7 linked regions of the Homo sapiens genome follow. The protein of the gene in region 1 purifies or fractionates together with the protein of each later gene. This does not show direct contact. Each region holds a gene or a part of one and is shown in the gene's direction. Other genes may lie near its edges. The genes, in order: RRP1B, DDX47, NRAS, MKI67, RSL1D1, PDCD11 and DDX56.

The links.
Region 2: the proteins of RRP1B (region 1) and DDX47 purify together in Homo sapiens (co-immunoprecipitation; 2 studies listed by IntAct, with this or other methods). This does not show direct contact.
Region 3: the proteins of RRP1B (region 1) and NRAS purify together in Homo sapiens (co-immunoprecipitation; one large-scale study listed by IntAct). This does not show direct contact.
Region 4: the proteins of RRP1B (region 1) and MKI67 purify together in Homo sapiens (co-immunoprecipitation; 2 studies listed by IntAct, with this or other methods). This does not show direct contact.
Region 5: the proteins of RRP1B (region 1) and RSL1D1 purify together in Homo sapiens (affinity purification with mass spectrometry; 2 studies listed by BioGRID and IntAct, with this or other methods). This does not show direct contact.
Region 6: the proteins of RRP1B (region 1) and PDCD11 purify together in Homo sapiens (co-immunoprecipitation; one large-scale study listed by IntAct). This does not show direct contact.
Region 7: the proteins of RRP1B (region 1) and DDX56 purify together in Homo sapiens (affinity purification with mass spectrometry; 2 studies listed by BioGRID and IntAct, with this or other methods). This does not show direct contact.

Annotation. Positions count from the first base shown.
Region 1 is NC_000021.9:43,683,560-43,687,059, forward strand, and holds part of RRP1B (ribosomal RNA processing protein 1 homolog B), read left to right. Parts: intron 1-993; coding exon 994-1,091; intron 1,092-2,210; coding exon 2,211-2,230; intron 2,231-3,244; coding exon 3,245-3,376; intron 3,377-3,500. UniProt on the Homo sapiens protein: Positively regulates DNA damage-induced apoptosis by acting as a transcriptional coactivator of proapoptotic target genes of the transcriptional activator E2F1.
Region 2 is NC_000012.12:12,823,346-12,826,845, forward strand, and holds part of DDX47 (probable ATP-dependent RNA helicase DDX47), read left to right. Parts: intron 1-524; coding exon 525-671; intron 672-1,194; coding exon 1,195-1,332; intron 1,333-2,654; coding exon 2,655-2,725; intron 2,726-3,500. UniProt on the Homo sapiens protein: Required for efficient ribosome biogenesis. May have a role in mRNA splicing. Involved in apoptosis.
Region 3 is NC_000001.11:114,703,969-114,706,771, reverse strand, and holds the end of NRAS (GTPase NRas), read left to right. Parts: 3' UTR 1-2,303; downstream 2,304-2,803. UniProt on the Homo sapiens protein: Ras proteins bind GDP/GTP and possess intrinsic GTPase activity.
Region 4 is NC_000010.11:128,112,924-128,116,423, reverse strand, and holds part of MKI67 (proliferation marker protein Ki-67), read left to right. Parts: intron 1-416; coding exon 417-1,496; intron 1,497-2,821; coding exon 2,822-2,997; intron 2,998-3,500. UniProt on the Homo sapiens protein: Protein that associates with the surface of mitotic chromosomes and acts both as a chromosome repellent during early mitosis and chromosome attractant during late mitosis.
Region 5 is NC_000016.10:11,841,543-11,845,042, reverse strand, and holds part of RSL1D1 (ribosomal L1 domain-containing protein 1), read left to right. Parts: intron 1-3,042; coding exon 3,043-3,136; intron 3,137-3,222; coding exon 3,223-3,348; intron 3,349-3,500. UniProt on the Homo sapiens protein: Regulates cellular senescence through inhibition of PTEN translation. Acts as a pro-apoptotic regulator in response to DNA damage.
Region 6 is NC_000010.11:103,424,126-103,427,625, forward strand, and holds part of PDCD11 (protein RRP5 homolog), read left to right. Parts: intron 1-858; coding exon 859-1,400; intron 1,401-3,203; coding exon 3,204-3,266; intron 3,267-3,500. UniProt on the Homo sapiens protein: Essential for the generation of mature 18S rRNA, specifically necessary for cleavages at sites A0, 1 and 2 of the 47S precursor. Directly interacts with U3 snoRNA. Involved in the biogenesis of rRNA.
Region 7 is NC_000007.14:44,568,107-44,570,908, reverse strand, and holds part of DDX56 (probable ATP-dependent RNA helicase DDX56), read left to right. Parts: intron 1-31; coding exon 32-151; intron 152-780; coding exon 781-894; intron 895-1,005; coding exon 1,006-1,100; intron 1,101-1,705; coding exon 1,706-1,779; intron 1,780-1,916; coding exon 1,917-2,006; intron 2,007-2,685; coding exon 2,686-2,791; intron 2,792-2,802. UniProt on the Homo sapiens protein: Nucleolar RNA helicase that plays a role in various biological processes including innate immunity, ribosome biogenesis or nucleolus organization. Plays an essential role in maintaining nucleolar integrity in planarian stem cells.

The DNA of each region.
Region 1 (3,500 bases):
GAGTTTTGAAAGAGATAGTAGCACTTATTTTGAATGGCTAAGCTCTCCTCTGTTCTCTACCACAGAGCCAGCTCTAGTGGCACTTTTCAAATAAAAAAAAGTTTGCCAAGTACAGATTGCAAATCTAGATTAAATTTAAAATTTAATTACAAGCTCACGCCTGTAATCCCAGCACTTTGGGAGGCCCAGGCGGGCAGATCACCTGAGGTCAAGAGTTCGAGACCAGCCTGGCCAACACAGTGAAACCCGTCTCTACTAAAAATACAAAAATTAGCCCGACACCGTGGCGCACGCCTGTAATCCCAGCTACTCGGGAGGCTGAGGCAGGAAAATCATTTGAACCCGGGAGGTGGAGGTTGCAGTGAACTGAGATCATGCCACTGCACTCCAGCCTGGGTGACAGACTCTGGCTCAAAAAAAAAAAAAAAAAAGCACACCCAGGTAAATTTTGTTGTGGGTACTCTATCACAATTTTTTTTTTTTAAGAATTGCTTACCCAGCTTTTCCCAAGAATAATTTTTTTTTTTTTTGAGACAGAGTCGCACTCTGTCTCCCAGGCTGGAGTGCGGTGGCTCGATCTCGGCTCACTGCAAGCTCTGCCTCCTGAGTTCACGCCATTCTCCTGCCTCAGCCTCCCGAGTAGCTGGGACTACAGGCGCCCGCCATCACGCCCGGCTAATATTTTGTATTTTTAGTAGAGACGGGGTTTTGCCGTGTTAGCCAGGATGGTCTCGATGTCCTGACCTTGTGATCCACCCGCCTCAGCCTCCCAAAGTGCTGGGATTACAGGCATGAGCCACCGCGCCCGGCCTGAACATGCATTTTTCAAAGGTAGTGCTTGTGCTCCTGGTTGCCAAGTCCCAGCACAAGCTTGTTTAGCCTATCTGTTGCCAAATGCTTCAGTAAGGGTTTCTCTTACTAGCAGATGTAAATGGCCAAGTCAGGCAGTGTTGTTTGGCTGCAGACTTATGTTTAGTTTCTCTTCCTGCCTAGTTTGACTATAAGGCTGTTGCTGATCGACTCCTGGAAATGACCAGCAGGAAGAACACGCCCCACTTCAACAGGAAGCGCCTCTCCAAACTCATCAAGAAGTCAGTAACTGGGGAGAGGGTTCTGACATCATCATTCCTTTAGTTCTCATCTCCTGGTGTGGGACAAGCCATCTGCATGCTTATCTTTTTTCTTTCTTCTTTTTTTGTCCTTTAATGCTTTTGTGTATAGCAATGTAATAGACACATGTAAACTGAAAAGCTTAATGGAAACAGCAGTCCCACCCCTCAGGTTCCATTCTTCCAGTGCAGCCATACTCATCTCTTAGCTGCTTTAGAATGATGTGAAGTCTATTCATGTCTAAAATGAACCAACCAGAAACTGATGTGAATCTGCTATTTAGGTGTCTTCTGCTGGTGTGCTGCTGAGATAGATAGGGTTAATTCTTTACCTCTCCCCTCCCTCCCATATGGCTATGCCAAAAGTGTTAGTTAATTCAGCTGTCAGTGTTGATGTCACTCTGACCATAGTGACATGATGACCTGGAATTCATGGAGGGCCTCGTGTGGCTTGCTGTCATTGGTGACAACAACTGTCTGATCACACTCTAGGAGCCGGGCACTGCTCTGAGCACTTTGTATACATTCAAGTATTCCATGTTAAGCCCCCAGAAAGTAGCTCCTGTAGTTTTGCCCATTTCCCAGCTGGTTCTTAGGGCACAGGATGGTCCTAGCTTGCCTGAGGTCCCTGCCATCCAGTGTCTCCTCCCCCATGCACCTCCCCACACTGCGCTTCGATGCGTCTTGTTTGTTCTAATGCACAAAAATTGTGTGAAGCAAAACATGGCTTCGCCTTTCTCCACTGGAGAATTGAATATGAGAGAGATCTAAGCTATTTCTGCCTTCAGAAACAAAAATTGAATTTCTTAGTTTGATTTGGGTGTGCCAAGATGCATCTTTGGCCCGCCGTGTCCTTGCTGGTATTGATGGTAACCGAGGGCGGCACTGGCCTTGAGCTTTTTGGCTTTTGTATTGCACCACCCTTCCCTCACAGAATTTCCTGTCTAGCCTCCCCTCCTGGAGGAGAACGTGAATTAACAACTATTTAACTATGGCTTGTATTTTAAAAATCAAATACATATGTCTACAGAAGACAGAAGGGATTTCTTTATGAACATTTGTTATTTTTTTATTTTTTATTTTTTATTTTTTTATTTTTAGATTCCAAGACCTTTCTGAAGGTGAGGCGCGCCAAGAATCATCATTCATGGTGTTTTTCGTGAATATGGACCCCACTGGGGGCGTTGATGCCAAACGCTGAGAAACAAGATTGAAAGAACTTTACTGAAAACCTCTGATAAGAAATAATAGTCCCTAGCCCAGGCAAAATAGCAAGGCCACATCTCTACTAAAAATGAAAAAATTAGCCAGGCGTGGTGGCGTGATCCTGTAGTCCCAGTCACTTGGGAGTCTAAGAGGGGAGGATCGCTTGAGCCCAGGAGGTCCAGGATGCAGTAAGTTGTAATCACACCACTGCACTCCAGCCTGGGTGACACAACAAGACCCCAACTTTTAAGAAAGACAGACCAGCCCTTACCTAGTCATACCGCAGTACAGCGTGGGAAGTGATGCAAGCCTAGGGCTCCCTGCAGCCTGCCCACCTTCCTATCCTGGGCTCTCCCTAACCACCAAAGCAAGAGGGCAGACTGCTCTCATGTGTGGGTACTGCGATGTTTTGGTTTGGTTTTTATTATTTTAACTAGATGGATTTTCAATGGCCTAGGAAGGTTTTAATTGGATACTCTATGAAGGTAAAAAATGTAATTTCTCAGGATCCCTTTCATTTGCTCTTATGGTCAATGGTCCCCCCGGGAAAGGCTGATGCTGTAAGCTTTGTTACATTTGGACAAGTCAGTGAAGTTACCCCATACCCGTCATTCACTAGGGACACTTGGAATTGGGAAAGGCACCAGCAAGCTGGTTGGAATGCAGAGACTGCATTAGCCAAGCGTCCGGGGTCCAGCCATGGAGGGTGTCACCGAGGGCTTGTGATCCCTTGCCTTGCCTTGGTTGAGAAATCCACAAAGCTTTTTTAAGTCTGTAATTCCTGTGTCAGCAGCGCTCAGGTTTGGGTGGGAGAAACGGTGAGGAACGATGATGATGAGGCAGAAATTGGGAGGGGTGCTGCTCTTAGGCCCCTGGGGCAGAGTCTTGAGCGCCTGGGGAAGCTAACAGTGTGTCACTCTGGCATCTAGGAAGCAGTATATCTCAACTCAGTTTTGCGGAGGACATTTCTGCTGATGAAGATGACCAAATCCTCAGTCAAGGAAAGCATAAGAAGAAAGGAAATAAACTTTTAGAGAAAACTAACTTGGAAAAGGAGAAAGGTAAGCTGTAAAGCTAAAAAGAAGGGCACGACTCAGCCCTTGGGGAGCGGCATGCACCATGGAGGCCTCGGAGACTTGAGCTCGTGCCGTCATAAAGCATTAGCAGAGCCCAAAGCTTCAGTCT
Region 2 (3,500 bases), on another chromosome or scaffold:
GCCTCTCCCTCTTCTTTTCACCAAAGCATCTGAAAATGTGTCAACTCTTGATTAGGTAAGAGCTGTAATGCAGATTGGCATCCTGTCTGTTTGCTTTAGAGTGCATATCGTGCTTATATTATCACCGATAAGCCAGACATGCCAGGAATTCACAACACATTAAATCACAATACTGAGGTCATGATGTAATCATATAATTCCTTCCCATCCCCATCCTTGAGGTAATTTTTCCTTTGTCTGCTTATTATGTGGCTTTTATTTAGGATGAAGCCCCTGGTTTTGTGCTTTGATATAAGGACTTCTCCTGTTTGCTGAGTACAGATCTCCTGCCTGCCTTAAGGCTAAGTGGGGAATATGTGGTTCACAGAGATGATAATGCTGGTTAAGGAATGCAAAGCTGGCAGCTGGAGGTCTGGATAATTGAAAAGCGACTATAGGCTTAGTCTTTACCTTATGTATATGCCAGGTCTCCAATCCTGTCTCCCAGGTTCAATGACATATATTGTTTTGGGTTTGTAACTTAGGATACCTACCTGGTTTATATTCTAAATGAATTGGCTGGAAACTCCTTTATGATATTCTGCAGCACCTGTAATAATACCCAGAGAACAGCTTTGCTACTGCGAAATCTTGGCTTCACTGCCATCCCCCTCCATGGACAAATGAGTCAGGTAAGGATTCATCATCATCATCAGCCATGCACTGGTGGCGTGAGCGAGATAAACCTCCTAACAGTAGGTTTGTACAATAAGGCCATAGGGCACCGATGCCTGTTTCCATAATTGTTGTAATTTTATGGGCTTTGAAGTGTTGCTCTAGATACTTACTTTCTCCTTTCAGGGTAGCGAGAGGCTCCCATTAGAATATTTCATATGTACCTGTCTGGTTTGCAAGCTGTTGAGTTGATTTATTCAGCCCTAGTGGTAATAATGACTCTGGCCTCTAAAAACATTAATAAATTATTTCCCAGTTACCTTTCTATCGTGTCAAACTACCCTTATTTTGTATCATATATATTTTTTTAATTTTTTGTTGCTTCCATATTTCTGTTTTGACCTGTGAAGCCCCATTCAAAACTTAGGGGGAAAAACCTTTAAAAAATTTATGTCTGTTTGTTCTCGTGTTTGTCTATTTTGTGTTTTGTATTCCAAAACATAGGTTAAGTTTTCCAACATTTCTTTTTCATTACCTCAGAGTAAGCGCCTAGGATCCCTTAATAAGTTTAAGGCCAAGGCCCGTTCCATTCTTCTAGCAACTGACGTTGCCAGCCGAGGTTTGGACATACCTCATGTAGATGTGGTTGTCAACTTTGACATTCCTACCCATTCCAAGGTGAGTCCTATTGCTAACTTACCTTTCTAGTCCTAAAGTGTATTTCTTAATGGACTGTCTTCTGTCTTTCCTTAGTTACAGCAGTTATTTTGTTCCTGGTTAATTAAGTATCAAAAAACAAGAAAGCCCTTGGTTAGTTCATTCACATCATCTTGCACAGGCCTGTGTATGTAACATTAGTACATATGAAAGAGGTAGCCAAGGAGAGTTATTAGATGCTCATAGAAGGGGCTGGTGCGCCACATACTGATCTTGTCACTGTCATTTCTTGAGAATGACAGCTTGTAGTTTTTTTGAGGCGGAGTCTCGCTCTGAGTTTTCTGAGGTGGAGTCTGCACCCAGTCTGGAGTGCAGTGGCGCAATCTTGGCTCACTGCATGCTCTGCCTCCTGGGTTCACGCCATTCTCCTGCCTCAGCCTCCCGAGTAGCTGGGACTACAGGCGCCCACCACCACGCCCGGCTAGTATTTTTAGTAGAGATGGGGTTTCACCGTGTTAGTCAGGACGGTCTTGATCTCCTGACCTCGTGATCTGCCCACCTCGGCCTCCCAAAGTGCTGGGATTACAGGCGTGAGCCACCGTGCCCGGCCTACAGCTTGTAGTGCTTAGTGTATCTCAAGGTTTCTCAGCCTTGGCACTATTAACATTTTAAGCTTTCGAATTCCTTGTTGTGGGGGTTGTTCTTTGAGTTGAAGGATTCCTAGTAGCATTCCTGGCCTTTACCCAGTAGATAACAGCATCACACAGTCTTCCACCTGTGATAATCAGAAATATTTCCAGACATTACCAGTGTCCCTTGAGGATGGCAGAATCACCCCTGGATGAGAACTGTTGTGTCTCTTGTCTTTGTATTTAACTGCTGTAGACAAGATGCTGTCTCATTTGATTTTCATAACAACTCTGTAATATGGGCATGTATTTCTATTCCTGTTCACTAGATAGAAACCAAGGTTCAGAGAGGTTATGTGATTTGCAGGTAATTGTGTAACTGGCAGATGGGAAGGATCAGAGCTGTAATCCAGCTCTGCCTCGAGATCCAGTGCTGTTTTTTAAAATACCATGCAGCCTGCGACCATGTAGATATGCTTTGTAGATTTATCTGTCTGTGAAAGAAGGGAAAGCATTGGATCAATTTTGTGCTGCAAGGAGAACAAAAAAGATGAAGTAGATTTGTCTCAACAAATTGCCCCGGCCATTTATTTTCTCCATGTTACGAAATGAATCTATTTTCTTTCAAAGGTTTTGCAGCAGGACTTTGCATATGTAGTTTTTTTTAAACTTATAATCCATATAACTTGAATTTATTTACCCTTTTTGTTTTAGGATTACATCCATCGAGTAGGTCGAACAGCTAGAGCTGGGCGCTCCGGAAAGGCTATTACTTTTGTCACACAGTAAGTAAATCAGCTTTAGGGCCGAGCAATGTAGAGAAAAGAGCAGAACTTTCAAGCCACTGGCTGAGAACCTGACACTACCATTTACTACACTAATCACTTTCATACTGAAAACCAGGATGAAGGAGTTGAAAGATGGGAATAATAATACCTATCTAGCAGGGTTTTGGTGAAAATTGGAGATTATATATGTAAAAGATCTAGTATAGTATTTGGCATGTAGAATGGTACCTAGAGCTGGAGAGCAATTGCCTTTGTGTCAACTCAGAAAGTATTAGAATAACTATTTCCAATTGTTTTTTTTAAAGAAACAAATTTTTATGTACCCAAGGCTGTTCTGTGAATAAATACCTTGAGGGATTTTCTCCCTCCCTCCTTTCCTTTTTTTTTTTGTATTTGTCTCGCTCTGTCGCCTAGGCTGGAGTGCAGTGGTGCAGTCTTGGCTAAGTGCACCTTCCACCCCCTGGGCTCAAGCAATCCTCCTACCTCACCATAGCTTCCCAAGTAGCTGGGACCACAGGTGCATGCCAGCACACCTGGCTTTTTAAAAAATATTTTTAGTAGAGATAGGGTTTTGTCATGTTGGCCAGGCTGGTCTTGAACTCCTGAGCTCAAGCGATCCACCTGCCTTAGCCTCTCATAGTGCTGGGATTACAGGCACAAGCCACCTGCCTGGCCGATTTTTGTTTCTTTTTCTTTTTTTAAGCAGCAAGGTTTCACTCTGTTGACCAGGCTGGAGTGCAGTGACTTGATCATAGCTCACTGCAGCTTCAAA
Region 3 (2,803 bases), on another chromosome or scaffold:
ATTCTTCTGCATTTGCTCATTGCACCAGTAACTCCAGCTAGTAATTTTGCTAGGTAGCTGCAGTTAGCCCTGCAAGGAAAGAAGAGGTCAGTTAGCACAAACCCTTTACCATGACTGGAAAACTCAGTATCACGTATTTAAACATTTTTTTTTCTTTTAGCCATGTAGAAACTCTAAATTAAGCCAATATTCTCATTTGAGAATGAGGATGTCTCAGCTGAGAAACGTTTTAAATTCTCTTTATTCATAATGTTCTTTGAAGGGTTTAAAACAAGATGTTGATAAATCTAAGCTGATGAGTTTGCTCAAAACAGGAAGTTGAAATTGTTGAGACAGGAATGGAAAATATAATTAATTGATACCTATGAGGATTTGGAGGCTTGGCATTTTAATTTGCAGATAATACCCTGGTAATTCTCATGAAAAATAGACTTGGATAACTTTTGATAAAAGACTAATTCCAAAATGGCCACTTTGTTCCTGTCTTTAATATCTAAATACTTACTGAGGTCCTCCATCTTCTATATTATGAATTTTCATTTATTAAGCAAATGTCATATTACCTTGAAATTCAGAAGAGAAGAAACATATACTGTGTCCAGAGTATAATGAACCTGCAGAGTTGTGCTTCTTACTGCTAATTCTGGGAGCTTTCACAGTACTGTCATCATTTGTAAATGGAAATTCTGCTTTTCTGTTTCTGCTCCTTCTGGAGCAGTGCTACTCTGTAATTTTCCTGAGGCTTATCACCTCAGTCATTTCTTTTTTAAATGTCTGTGACTGGCAGTGATTCTTTTTCTTAAAAATCTATTAAATTTGATGTCAAATTAGGGAGAAAGATAGTTACTCATCTTGGGCTCTTGTGCCAATAGCCCTTGTATGTATGTACTTAGAGTTTTCCAAGTATGTTCTAAGCACAGAAGTTTCTAAATGGGGCCAAAATTCAGACTTGAGTATGTTCTTTGAATACCTTAAGAAGTTACAATTAGCCGGGCATGGTGGCCCGTGCCTGTAGTCCCAGCTACTTGAGAGGCTGAGGCAGGAGAATCACTTCAACCCAGGAGGTGGAGGTTACAGTGAGCAGAGATCGTGCCACTGCACTCCAGCCTGGGTGACAAGAGAGACTTGTCTCCAAAAAAAAAGTTACACCTAGGTGTGAATTTTGGCACAAAGGAGTGACAAACTTATAGTTAAAAGCTGAATAACTTCAGTGTGGTATAAAACGTGGTTTTTAGGCTATGTTTGTGATTGCTGAAAAGAATTCTAGTTTACCTCAAAATCCTTCTCTTTCCCCAAATTAAGTGCCTGGCCAGCTGTCATAAATTACATATTCCTTTTGGTTTTTTTAAAGGTTACATGTTCAAGAGTGAAAATAAGATGTTCTGTCTGAAGGCTACCATGCCGGATCTGTAAATGAACCTGTTAAATGCTGTATTTGCTCCAACGGCTTACTATAGAATGTTACTTAATACAATATCATACTTATTACAATTTTTACTATAGGAGTGTAATAGGTAAAATTAATCTCTATTTTAGTGGGCCCATGTTTAGTCTTTCACCATCCTTTAAACTGCTGTGAATTTTTTTGTCATGACTTGAAAGCAAGGATAGAGAAACACTTTAGAGATATGTGGGGTTTTTTTACCATTCCAGAGCTTGTGAGCATAATCATATTTGCTTTATATTTATAGTCATGAACTCCTAAGTTGGCAGCTACAACCAAGAACCAAAAAATGGTGCGTTCTGCTTCTTGTAATTCATCTCTGCTAATAAATTATAAGAAGCAAGGAAAATTAGGGAAAATATTTTATTTGGATGGTTTCTATAAACAAGGGACTATAATTCTTGTACATTATTTTTCATCTTTGCTGTTTCTTTGAGCAGTCTAATGTGCCACACAATTATCTAAGGTATTTGTTTTCTATAAGAATTGTTTTAAAAGTATTCTTGTTACCAGAGTAGTTGTATTATATTTCAAAACGTAAGATGATTTTTAAAAGCCTGAGTACTGACCTAAGATGGAATTGTATGAACTCTGCTCTGGAGGGAGGGGAGGATGTCCGTGGAAGTTGTAAGACTTTTATTTTTTTGTGCCATCAAATATAGGTAAAAATAATTGTGCAATTCTGCTGTTTAAACAGGAACTATTGGCCTCCTTGGCCCTAAATGGAAGGGCCGATATTTTAAGTTGATTATTTTATTGTAAATTAATCCAACCTAGTTCTTTTTAATTTGGTTGAATGTTTTTTCTTGTTAAATGATGTTTAAAAAATAAAAACTGGAAGTTCTTGGCTTAGTCATAATTCTTATATTCACTGAAGTGCCTTTATAGAATGCTAATATTAATTTCAAACTTTTGGATGTGACATTTGGAAGTGTTGGAATATCTGAGTTCCTCATTTCATCATAACATCAAATATATCAAAGCCTGCTTTAAAGTATTACCTTGGGGATGATTCATAGCTATTTGTCAGATTTGCATACATTAAGATGCCATTGGAGCTCTTTTGTCTCGTTTTTGCATTACTGCACAATCTAGCCATCTTGGTATAGGTGGAGGAGCATTGATGCTAGGGGCTGGAGAACTTGAGGCCCGATATAATTTTACTACGCCGGCCCAGTTTCTTCAATTGCAAAATAGAAGAGTTGAATTAGGATATATCAGATTTCCCAACCTTAAGGAGACTTTAAAAAGAATAATATCAAACCTAGGCATTTTCAACTAACACTGGAATACTAATTTTGGAGACCTTGGTTTACTCTACCAAAGACATCAAAATTTTTTTTCACTTTTTTTTCTTGA
Region 4 (3,500 bases), on another chromosome or scaffold:
GAAGGGGCAACAAGAATGCAAGTGCTAAATGTCTAGCCTGTCAGAAATGGAGGAGGTGTCATTTAACATGTCAACGACAGACAGATGCCTAACTTTCCCTTGGTGACTGATGGTATGCTATGCTTAGGAGAGACTCTAGATATGAGAAAATTGCCTGTTCAGCTGTCAACTCAGTTCTCAGTAGTTAGATAGCATGTGCTATTTCATACTGGTTATTGGAGCTGATATGATTTATATATTTGTATCATAATACTAGTATCATAAGACTTGCAAGTTTTAGGCATTAAATAATTTGTAGGCCAAGTAAAAGCTAGCTTATAAGACAACCTGAAACAATTAAAATATTGAATTCCACAAATGTTAATCATTGAGAAAATGCTGAACTTCTGTTTCTTATTTCATAATTCATTGCCAAGATGAGAAAGCTCAAGATTCCAAGGCCTATTCAAAAATCACTGAAGGAAAAGTTTCAGGAAATCCTCAGGTACATATCAAGAATGTCAAAGAAGACAGTACCGCAGATGACTCAAAAGACAGTGTTGCTCAGGGAACAACTAATGTTCATTCCTCAGAACATGCTGGACGTAATGGCAGAAATGCAGCTGATCCCATTTCTGGGGATTTTAAAGAAATTTCCAGCGTTAAATTAGTGAGCCGTTATGGAGAATTGAAGTCTGTTCCCACTACACAATGTCTTGACAATAGCAAAAAAAATGAATCTCCCTTTTGGAAGCTTTATGAGTCAGTGAAGAAAGAGTTGGATGTAAAATCACAAAAAGAAAATGTCCTACAGTATTGTAGAAAATCTGGATTACAAACTGATTACGCAACAGAGAAAGAAAGTGCTGATGGTTTACAGGGGGAGACCCAACTGTTGGTCTCGCGTAAGTCAAGACCAAAATCTGGTGGGAGCGGCCACGCTGTGGCAGAGCCTGCTTCACCTGAACAAGAGCTTGACCAGAACAAGGGGAAGGGAAGAGACGTGGAGTCTGTTCAGACTCCCAGCAAGGCTGTGGGCGCCAGCTTTCCTCTCTATGAGCCGGCTAAAATGAAGACCCCTGTACAATATTCACAGCAACAAAATTCTCCACAAAAACATAAGAACAAAGACCTGTATACTACTGGTAGAAGAGAATCTGTGAATCTGGGTAAAAGTGAAGGCTTCAAGGCTGGTGATAAAACTCTTACTCCCAGGAAGCTTTCAACTAGAAATCGAACACCAGCTAAAGTTGAAGATGCAGCTGACTCTGCCACTAAGCCAGAAAATCTCTCTTCCAAAACCAGAGGAAGTATTCCTACAGATGTGGAAGTTCTGCCTACGGAAACTGAAATTCACAATGAGCCATTTTTAACTCTGTGGCTCACTCAAGTTGAGAGGAAGATCCAAAAGGATTCCCTCAGCAAGCCTGAGAAATTGGGCACTACAGCTGGACAGATGTGCTCTGGGTTACCTGGTCTTAGTTCAGTTGATATCAACAACTTTGGTGATTCCATTAGTAAGTTTATTTAATTGTAAATTTATTTTTCTAAAAGATGAACACCTTCTATGTAGCTGTGAGACCTTCATTCTTTCAGTAGTGATTAGCTTTGTGGAAGAGAATGTAAGCACATAAGGCACAGGGATAAGACAGACACGCACGCTGTTTTCGCTAATAGATGAATACTGAAGGCCTAGGTAATTGTAACAAGGAATGACAGAAGAGATGGAAGTTGTCAGGCAATCATGAAGCAGGGGTTATTGAAGGAGATAGGGTGGCCCCAAAAATATTTGATTCTCCTCCATCTATCACAAAATAGAAAAGAGAATAATCATAATTGCTTTTCACATGGAGTTTAATTCTGAACTACAATCAACTGTATCATATGAGTTTGGTCATGTGGAATAAATCACTGGTAATCATTAAACATAGCGGTAGTTCTCAGGTGTTGATACTCTGTTTTCAGAGTGTCCTACAAACAATTTGCTGTAAACACTGGACTGTACCCATGAGTCCATATGCCACATGAACACTTGATCCTTGGTGCAATAGCAGTGCCCGTGGCTAGGTTGTCTTTTTAGAGCTATGTCACACATGAGGAAACGCACAACCCAAGGCCAGTCAGGAAGTGGCAGAGGTAGGACCTTTATAGCAGGTGTGGTAGCTCCTCGGGAGCTTCCTACACTCCTAGGGACTGGCTATTAGAAGAAAAGTTGTCTGGGCCACAGACGCAGTATTCGTACTCCAGGCTGTGTTTCTGCAGGTGGCCTATAGCGGTGGGGCATGAGGCTGTCGATAAAATAAGGTTTGTAACATCAGTCTCAGTATTCCACCAAGCTTCCTAGTGGGGAAGCATCACTTAGGCAAGGGATTTACATTAACTGGTGGCTCAGGAAAATGTGTGGCCGGGACTGGGCTCCTGTGAATTGACTCAGAACCACCTGGAGGAGTTTTTACAGCTCATGCATTCTGGTCACTGGGTGGCTCAGGCTGAGACCCAAGTGCATGTCTTTAGAGAGTTCTCTGGCTGTCGTCCCCCTACTCTAAGGTGAAATCTGCTGCTGCAGACTCCTCCTTTCTATGTCCACACATAATGTTTCAATGTTTTAAAGAAAGCCTCTGTACTGTCCAGTGGCAACTTGACGTCTTAGTGGCCACTCCCGCAATCCTTTAGGAACTCTTAGTAGCTTAGCTTCACCAGGATTGCAAGAATAGAGGCGTGCTGTAGGTACTGTGTTTCGATGACTTTTCACTTGGTTTGTCTTTAATGCTAACGTGAAATAAATCACTAGTCTTGGTATGTTTTTTCATTGCTCTTTCCACATTTGTATCCGTTACTTTAGATGAGAGTGAGGGAATACCTTTGAAAAGAAGGCGTGTGTCCTTTGGTGGGCACCTAAGACCTGAACTATTTGATGAAAACTTGCCTCCTAATACGCCTCTCAAAAGGGGAGAAGCCCCAACCAAAAGAAAGTCTCTGGTAATGCACACTCCACCTGTCCTGAAGAAAATCATCAAGGTGAGTTGAACAAGCAGCATCCCATTCACGCCCAGTGGCTCACACACCGGGTACCTATTCCTTTCCAAATACTGACACAAGTAGAATTATGATGAAGACCTTTATTTATTTATTAAAGAAACAAGTTTTTAAAAAGACGAATGAAAGCTCATTGATGTGGGCACCAGCAAAGGAGCCCCTGGGTCCCTGACCGTGGTGCTGATGCGACCGAGTCGGGGGAGTCCTTGATGTTGTCCTTTTCGTGCAGAAGTTCCCAGACACCCACGCTTACAGCACTGCGTAATCACCTGCAGGCACCGTCAGAATAGCCAATTACAAAGATTCTGGATACATTACCACGTCGACCCATAAGGATTGTTTTATTTTCTTTTAGAGTTACAAGGCTATAGTTAAGGCATTTACCTGGTGTGAAGGAAAATCAATGGCACATCTTCCTTTTACACCTTCAGCTCTTTAGAATATTTGCTTGCCTGTTCCTTTGCTGTGTTGTCCTTCCTGGGTTT
Region 5 (3,500 bases), on another chromosome or scaffold:
ATATTGGTTTAACCTTACCCTGGATACTGAGCTAGGCGGAGCCCCCACACCTAGTCTTACCTACTAGAACAGATGTTTTAGGGCAGTGATTGCTTCCAACCTCTGGCTGAGCAAAGGATGCGGTTCAGGCTATTTTATTAGGCTGAGAAGTGACTTAAGTTTGTATTATTGGCAGTGTATCAGCTTGGGGAGGTAGGGCAGGTTTTAAATGTATTGAAAATACATTTTATGAAGTACTGCACTTGCTGACTGCGGTGTGGAGATGGCTAGCTGCCAGTAAGGCAGAGCTGTAGGCCACTGCCCTTCCACCCAGAGATTCCCCAGGAGCCGTGCAGACCCAGTGGACACAGTCGGCAGAAAACAACACAGACTTCTTGCCTCTGCTCACCAGGGAGGCCTGACCCCAGGGGAGTGTCTCCAGGTAGAGCAGAGCAGGGTACTGGTGGGCAGGACAGGTGGTCTCTGGTGTTGTCTTTAGCCTGCTGCTGGGAATCCCTTCATCAGGTGTAATGAAGTAGCCTAGAAGAGTTGGTCACGGAGCCTAGACCCCTACCCCTTTGGTTAAAGGCTAATGTCAAAGTAGTGGCTCATGGAAGTGGTTGGCTAGAAGTTCAGGCCTTGTTTATGGGACCCATGAGTATCTGGGAGAAGAAGATGGTACCATGAAGGCAGGTAAAGGAGCAGCAGTCTCCTGCCACTGGGGATTTTCCAAGGCAAAAGCAACAGCTTAAAGAAAGTTGCAGACAATTGAGAAAAAAAGAAATCATTCTTTATTTCCTCTCTTACCTTTCCCCAGCAAAAGAATTTATTTTCCTCTTCCACTTCTGTTCCTCTCCCTTCTTCCCCCCCACCATCTTTCCATCTGGGATGCTCAGGTGTGCTTGCAGGCAGGTGGTGACAGGCACAGGGAGTGGGCAGTGCCCAGTCTTTGGCTGAAGAGAGAGAGGAGCAACAGTCCGTCTCATTCCTCATTCCGCAGACACTGTGCCGACAGTGAGCCTTCCTTCTGGCTCACTTCCTTCTGGCCCCAGCGCTGAGCCCTCCAGGCTTCCCACTGGGCTTCTGCCTGCACTCTGTTTCACCTGAAGGGATGGTCTTGCTCGTAGCTGAAAGACACTATTCCACCAGGGACAAGAACTATTTACTCTTTTTTTTTTTTTTTTTTTTTTTTGAGACAGAGTTCTTGCTCTGTCGCCCAGGCTAGAGTGCAGTGGCTTGATCTCAGCTCACTGCAAGCTCCGCCTGCCGGGTTCACACCATTCTTCTGCCTCAGCCTCCCAAGTAGCTGGGACTATAGGCGCCCACCACAATGCCCAGCTAATTTTTTTGTATTTTTTTAGTAGAGACGGTGTTTTACCATGTTAACCAGGATGGTCTCGGTCTCCTGACCTCGTGATCTGCCCACCTTGGCCTCCCAACGTGCTGGGATTACAGGCGTGAGCCACCACGCCCAGCCACAGAACTATTTATTCTTGAACATGGCGGCTGGGTAGAGCAGTAGAACTATAGAGAGAGCAGGTGACCCTCCTGGAGGTAGGTCCCTTTAGAACAGCTTGAAGGCGGACTCAGCGACATGGGGTTGTCTAAGATAAAGGTAGAACCTCCTCTGGCCCTGCCTCCCAATGCGCCTAACCTCACAGTCAGGTGCTACCAGCTCTTTAATCACTGCCTCGGCTGGGCATGGTGGCTCACGCTTGTAATCCCAGCACTTTGGGAGACCGTGGCAGGTGGATCAGTTGAGGGCAGGTGTTTGAGACCAGTCTGGCCAACACAGTGAAACCCCATCTCTACTAAAAATACACAAATTAGGCCGGGCGCAGTGGTTCACGCCTGTAATCCCAGCACTTTGAGAGGCCGAGGCAGGCGGATCACCTGAGGTCGGGAGTTTGAGACCAGCCTGACCAACATGGAGAAACCCCGTCTCTACTAAAAAAAAAAAAAAAAATACAAAAAATTAGCCGGGCGTGGTGGCGCATTCCTGTAATCCCAGCTACTCGGGAGGCTGAGGCAGGAGAATCGCTTGAACCCAGGAGGTGGGGGTTGCAGTGAGCCAAGATCACGCCATTGCACTCCAGCCTGGGCAACGAGTGAAACTGCATCTCAAAAAAAAAAAAAAAAAATTAGCTGGGCGTGGTGGCATGCGCCTGTAATCTCAGCTACTAGGGAGGCTGAGGCAGGAGAATTGCTTGAACCCAGGAGGCGAAGGTTGCAGTGGGCCGAGATCACGTCACTGCACTTCAGCCTGGGCGACAGAGCAAACTCCATCTCAAAAAAAAAAAAAGTCACCCCTTCATGATGTGACATTTTACTTTAGGTAGAAGGAATTTCTAGTACATGAAAGATGATAATCTTCCTTTAAAACATATTTAGGCTGGGTGTGGTGACTCATGTGTATAATCCCAGCACTTTGGGAGGTTGAGGCAGGAGGATCACTTGAGCCCAGGAGTTCCATACCAGCCTGGTGGATCACTTGAGCTCAGGAGTGAGAACCCATCTCTACAAAAAATACAAAAATCAGCTGGGTGACCTGTAGTCCCAGCTACTCCGGAGGCTGAGTTGGAAGGATTACTTAAGCCCAGTACGTTGATTGTGCCACTGCATTTCAGCCTGGGCGACAGGAAAACCCTGTCTCAAAAATGAAATAAAATATATTTAGAACCTAAAGATTTTAATGGGATTTTTTTGTTTGTTTTTTTGTTTTGTTTTTTTTTTCAGACTGTGTTTTTCCCTGTTACCCAGGCTGGAGTGCAGTCGCCAGATCTGGGCTCACTGTATGTAGCCTTGAGCTCCTGGGCTCAGGTGATTTTTCTGCCTCAGCCTCCTGAGTAACTGGGATTACAGGCATGTACCACCATGCCCAGTTAATTTTTGTTAGTGTGGTAGAGACAGGATTTTGCCATGTTGCCCGGGATTAATATTTCTACCTTTTTAAAAGAAAAAGAAAAACTTGAGGATTATGTATTTATATTTCTCATATACCTGCCTGGTTTATTTTGAAAAATGGTTTTTTAAAATCTTGTCTAATACTATATTAAATTTCAGTGCTATACGTATTGGTCACGTTGGAATGCAAATTGAGCACATCATTGAAAACATTGTTGCTGTCACCAAAGGACTTTCAGAAAAATTGCCAGAGGTACAGTATTACAGGTGCATCAATTGATTGTTCATTTAAAAGAAACAAAGTATATGTAGACGATGTTACTCTTTTCTTTGTTTCAGAAGTGGGAGAGCGTGAAACTCCTGTTTGTGAAAACTGAGAAATCGGCTGCACTTCCCATCTTTTCCTCGTTTGTCAGCAATTGGGATGAAGCCACCAAAAGATCTTTGCTTAATAAGAAGAAAAAAGTTAGTAGAATTTTAAATACTTACAGAATGAATAATGAAGGGTGTAAATTCAGTCACTAGGAGAGAAGTAGACCATCATCGCTGCCCGACTTTTCAGTTATCTTCTGGTTTTGTGGTGGTTGTGCTTTTGTCACTTTACATGAGGTAAAATG
Region 6 (3,500 bases), on another chromosome or scaffold:
AAAAACATCCCATGAGCCAAACAGCATGTCTGTGGGCAGTTCAGACCTCCAAGCTGTGCGTCCACACCCTCGCCTGCCTTGTCTTCTGGACACTTTTGTGTGACATAAGAATGGGTTTGAGGGAAAAATTATTATTTTTCTCTGGGTGATGAATATATTTGGTTATTGTCTAAAGCACTTATTAGGCACCTAGTTGCACAGAGTATGGTGCAGTGTAGATATAATCCTTAATTTCCAGTTGCTTACAGTATTAAGAGTTTAGGACAGAGAGAGAATGGAAAGCAATACTAACCTCTCATTCAGTTTTCTAGCAGGACCCTGTACCATTTTATCACCTAAGGGAAGCTTGGGCATATAAGAGCATGAGCACAATTTGGATTTTGAGGAAAGAGAGGCTAGGTGCCTTGCACACAATAAGCTCTCAGTAATGACTCTATTCATTGCTTGGGTTGAAGAGTGATTAATTGGGGGTGGGGGAGCTGCAGGACAGATTCAGGAACCACAGTGTCTCTAAGCTGAGAGAGCTGTTAGAGGTTGCAAGGCTGTGCATCAGAATTATCTCAATAACTTGTAAAATTCAGATTTACTAGATCTAGGATAGGGTCTTGCAATTTAAATTCAAAGCAAAGCAAAAACCAAGCCAAGGTAATTCAGAGGCAGCCCCATGAGTTTAGTGTACAGGAGAGGAAAGCTAGGTCCAGGGAGTGAAGGCTAGTCTGTTCCAGCTCAGACCAGCCTTGAGTTCCCTAGCCTTGGGACCCCAGAGGGTTTCCTCAGCCACACCCTGCCCAGTGGGGCCATGAGTGAGTGACCATGCTGTGTAAGGAAAGCAGGGATGGTGGCTTTTCTCTCTTCTAGCTGAGGAAAGGCAGCGAACACCAGGCGATTGTGCAGCACTTGGAGAAGTCCTTTGCCATTGCCTCCTTGGTAGAGACGGGCCACCTGGCAGCTTTCTCCCTGACCTCTCACCTCAACGACACCTTCCGCTTTGACTCAGAGAAATTGCAGGTGGGACAGGGTGTCTCCCTAACCCTCAAGACCACAGAACCAGGAGTGACTGGCCTTCTTTTGGCTGTGGAGGGGCCGGCTGCCAAGAGGACCATGAGGCCGACCCAGAAGGACTCTGAGACAGTTGATGAGGATGAAGAAGTGGATCCAGCTCTGACTGTAGGGACCATAAAGAAGCACACCCTCTCCATCGGGGACATGGTCACAGGGACTGTCAAGTCCATTAAGCCTACCCATGTGGTTGTGACTCTGGAAGATGGCATTATTGGCTGTATCCATGCCTCCCACATTCTAGATGATGTTCCAGAGGGCACCTCTCCTACTACCAAGCTGAAGGTTGGGAAGACGGTCACTGCCCGAGTGATTGGCGGGCGAGACATGAAGACATTCAAGTATGGAGGCTCTGGGGGTGGGCTGGCTTCGAGGGAGATTGTTGTTGTTGTGGGAGGACTGGGAAAGTAGGTGGGCTCCAAAAAGTTGCATGTAAGTCAGATTCTCTTTTAGTTAACAAAAGGCATTCACCAAAGAATTATTTTGCAAGATTCTTTTTTTTTTCTTTTTTTTGAGACGGAGTCTCACTCTGTTGCCCAGGCTGAAGTGCAGTGGTGTGATCTCGCCTCACTGCAAGCTCTGCCTCCTGGGTTCACACCCTTCTCCTGCCTCAGCCTCCCAAGTAGCTGGGACTACAGGCACCCACCACCACGCCCGGCTAACTTTTTGTGTTTTTAATAGAGATGGGGTTTCACTGTGTTAGCCAGGATGGTCTCAATCTCCTGACCTTGTGATTTGCTCACCTCCACCTCCCAAAGTGCTGGGATTACAGTGCATTATTCTTTTTAAAAATATGGAATATATGGTGTGGTTGTTAAGAACATGGGTTTGGAGTCAGACCCGGGTTTGAATTCTAGATTAACTGTGACCATGTGGCAGTAGCTACTTAAGTCCAAATTTTATTTTCTTAATTTGTAACGTGAGAGTCATGGTAGCGACTACTTTGTAGGGCCATGGTGAAGACTGAAAGAGAGAACGTGTAGTCTGTTCTTTGCCTAGTGGGTTGCTGGCCTCAGTTACTGCGCTGTATACATCTGCAGTTGTCATTCTCCACCTCCCACTTTAATTATCCTCATTTACTTTAAATCTAGTGCCACATGTTACTGTAGCAGAAATTCTTGCTATAACAAGAACAGCAAAAAAAGAATTCAAAGTCTGGCCAATAATTTGCATATTAATTTCAGTAGCTAACTGTGGGGTCTTCAGTAAGTCAATTATCCTCTAAATAAAGACCTCAGTTTCCTTATTTTTAGAATGAAAGAATTGGAGTATATAGACTGTAAGGAAAATTGTTTTCAGGATCTGATATGACAATCCTAAAAGATCAGGCCAGGCACGGTGGCTCACGCCTGTAATTCCAGCACTTTTGGGAGGCTGAGGTGGGTGGATCACCTGAGATCAGGAGTTCAAGACTAGCCTGGCCAACATGGTGAAACCCCGTCTACTGAAAAAACAAAAATTAGCCGGGCACAGTGCCTGTAGTCCCAGCTACTCGGGAAGCTGAGGCAGGAGAATCACTTGAACTCAGGAGGCAGAGGTTGCAGTGAGCTGAGATTGTGCCATTGCACTCTAGCCTGGGCAAGAGAGTGAGACTCCGTTTCAAAAAAAAAAAAAAAATCAGGTGAGGCTGGGTGTAGTGGCTGAACCCTGTAATCCCAGCACTTTGGGACGATGAGGGAGGTGGAAAACCTGAGCCCAGGAGTTCAAGACCTGCCTGGGCAACATGGTGAGACCCCATCTCTACAAAAAAAAAAATAAATAAATAAAAATAAAAATTAGCTGGGCATGGTGGCATACACCTATAGTCCCAGCTACTTGGGAGGCTGAGCTGGGAGGATTGCTTGAGCCCAGGAGATTGAGGCTACAGTGAGCCATGATTGCGCCACTGCATTCCAGCTTGGGTGACAGAGTGAGACCTTGTCCCAGAAAAAAAAAAAATTCAGATGAGCCTGCTCCTTACTAATAACTGCAAAGGTTGGGAATGGAAACCTTCAGCCTGACACATCTGTCTTCAGTGGTGGTGTGACAGTGGAACAGGGTGCTTTTGTGAGCTTGGTTTGGTGGAGAGTAGGGAGAAATCCTGACCTACAGATTACTGTGTTACAGAGATGAAGAGAAATGATTCAGCTTATTTGTTTCTCCAGGTATCTCCCAATAAGTCACCCCAGATTCGTTCGAACCATCCCGGAGCTGAGTGTTCGGCCAAGGTGAGGGGGACATTAGCAGCACTGTCTTACGGAAAGAGCACTGGGCTTTGGAATTAGGAATCCCGAATTCGAATCTTGATTTTACCAGTGTTAGGATTGATTTTTGCCTTTCTCTGTCCAAGTTTTCTTGTTTCTCTAGTGGGGATATTTGGTTCTCCTAGGGCTGGAGGGATCATATGAAAATTAATGCAAAAGCTGTGTACAGGTTTTAAGTATCAATTTAAAGCCTGGTTT
Region 7 (2,802 bases), on another chromosome or scaffold:
GAGCTGATTCTCTGTCCGCTCTTGGCTGCAGGTGCCACATCATCTCACAGTTCAACCAAGGCTTCTACGACTGTGTCATAGCAACTGATGCTGAAGTCCTGGGGGCCCCAGTCAAGGGCAAGCGTCGGGGCCGAGGGCCCAAAGGGGACAAGTGAGTCCATGCCTCTTTTTCCATCCCTCCCCAGAAATGCCTGTGTTTTTAGCTTTTTGGAAGACTAAAACCAGAGTGCACAGAGCAGGGAGCCAAACCTTCCAGGCCTGGCTGGTAGTGTAGCCCAGAGAGCCCCACAGGTTCTTGCTCAGCTGCCTGGATATAGAGAAGGGAGTGGATGGTGCACACTGCACATGCACCACGAAGGGCAAAACTGCCGGGGTTGTTGGCATGCAGAGCCCTGCAGGGGAGATGGCCCATCCTGCATTGGTGGTATGGCTGTGACTTGCAGGGAGCATATTTCTGAAGGGAAAAGGAACCCCCCAACTCTCCAGTCTCTGTCCAGCTGAAGGCTTGACTAGCTCAGAGTTGGTTTTCAGATCACCATGTAGGGCAATGAGTTCTGCTGTTGTCCCAGAACAGAGGTCAGGCCGAGATTTGGGTACATGTCAAAGCTCCAGGCTGCCCCAGGAAACCCTGACTCCTGGAACGGTTCCATTGTTGGAGAGTCCTCTGTATGTCAGGGTCTTATGATCTACAGGCATTTAGAGGAAGTTTTGCTGATTCAGCGTGTGAATACGTGCCCAGAGGAGAGGAAGGGTCCGGCTGACATTGAGTTATCTCTGCAGGGCCTCTGATCCGGAAGCAGGTGTGGCCCGGGGCATAGACTTCCACCATGTGTCTGCTGTGCTCAACTTTGATCTTCCCCCAACCCCTGAGGCCTACATCCATCGAGCTGGCAGGTAGTAGTGTGACGGCCCAGGCATCTGCATGGTAGGCACACTGAGGGACTTGGGGTGTGCTGGACAGAGCCTGCGGGTTGGAGATGCAAGCTGCACTGTCTTCCCTTGCAGGACAGCACGCGCTAACAACCCAGGCATAGTCTTAACCTTTGTGCTTCCCACGGAGCAGTTCCACTTAGGCAAGATTGAGGAGCTTCTCAGTGGAGGTAAGAGCCTGGCTCTTGTGGTCCTGGGCCAGGGTCAGGCTTCTTCCACAATGCTTTAAAACTCCATGATAATGATGACAGAGGTCACAACATAGTGTGACAGGCCACTTCCACCATCCATCCTTGTTCTGCCCTGAGTGGCAGGCACTGTCCCCCTTGAGAGATAAACAAATTGAGGTAATTTGTCCAAAGTTGTGTTTACTGTCTGCCTCATGAGCGTTGAGTGACCTGACAGGCTGCTGTGACAGCTCAGGACAGCACCTGACCCCAGGGTGCTGGGTGGTCCTGGACTGCTCTCTGTGGCCGTCGTCATGGGGGTACCTTGACTCCCAAGGAATACCATGGGGTACTCCTTGGGAGAGGAGAAGAGAGTGGGTGACGGGTTCTTGGGCTTGGGGCCACACAGGCCACCCCCATCCACACACGGGGACAGATGGGTCATCACTGTAAGAGGCCCAGGTGCAGCTAACCTGCATGTTCGGCATCCCAGGAAGGCGGTGGGTCCCCTGCTGCTTTCCCCCAAGGGGGAGGTGCAGGAGGCCTCCAATGAAGACCCTATCCTAAGGCCTCAGCCTGTGGGACCCTCGCTGCTTTCTTCTCCACAGAGAACAGGGGCCCCATTCTGCTCCCCTACCAGTTCCGGATGGAGGAGATCGAGGGCTTCCGCTATCGCTGCAGGGTGAGCTGCTGTGGTGGGGAGGGGAATGAGAGGGGAGGGGCTGTGGCCCAGGGATTGCACCGTCTTGCTGAGCATCCAGGTGTGAAGGGAGGATTTGGGGCAGCCTCACTGTCTTGACCTTCAGTGTCCACCCCCAGGATGCCATGCGCTCAGTGACTAAGCAGGCCATTCGGGAGGCAAGATTGAAGGAGATCAAGGAAGAGCTTCTGCATTCTGAGAAGCTTAAGGTGAGTGGATGGGAGGTGAGAAGGGGATAGATCTTAGACGGCTGCCCTTTTTGGAGACTGGCTGAGCTCCGAGTGGTGAGAAGCAGAGAACTGGGCAGTTTTCTGGCCTTTGGCACGGAAGGGGAGGAAATGGACCCAGAATCATGGAAGGAAGCCAGTCTGTTCTGCTTGGTGGTAAATTGGCACAACCTTATGGTGGACACTGTCCAGCAGAATTACGAGCTCATGTGTCCTTTCATCCGAAATTCCACTTCTGGAACTTAATCCTGGTCACGCTTGTGAATGTGCACAGTCAAGCATGTGCCTGCATTCATCCATCCATGGCATTATCATGGAACCAAAAGATGGAAACAGCCTGGGGCCACCATAGGGGGCTTGCTAGGTAAACTCAGGTGCATTCAGAGCCGAAGGTTACATGGGAAGGAATGAGGTTGGTTGCGTGTCCATATGGAACAGTCTGTAAGATGATGCCCAGCAAAAAGGGGTACAGGGTACTGCCATGTGTGTCATGGAGAAGGGAAAATGGAAACATCCACTCCCGGGAGGTTCTGAGAAATGCACAGAAGCAGCTGCCTCATGCCTTTTGAAACACATGAGTGTGTTATCCTTTGAAAAGCTAGGTCTGTGAAGTCACAGAAGAAAGATGCTCACTCTGTGGCTCTCCCTCTTCCCCCGGCAGACATACTTTGAAGACAACCCTAGGGACCTCCAGCTGCTGCGGCATGACCTACCTTTGCACCCCGCAGTGGTGAAGCCCCACCTGGGCCATGTTCCTGACTACCTGGGTGAGTGTGGC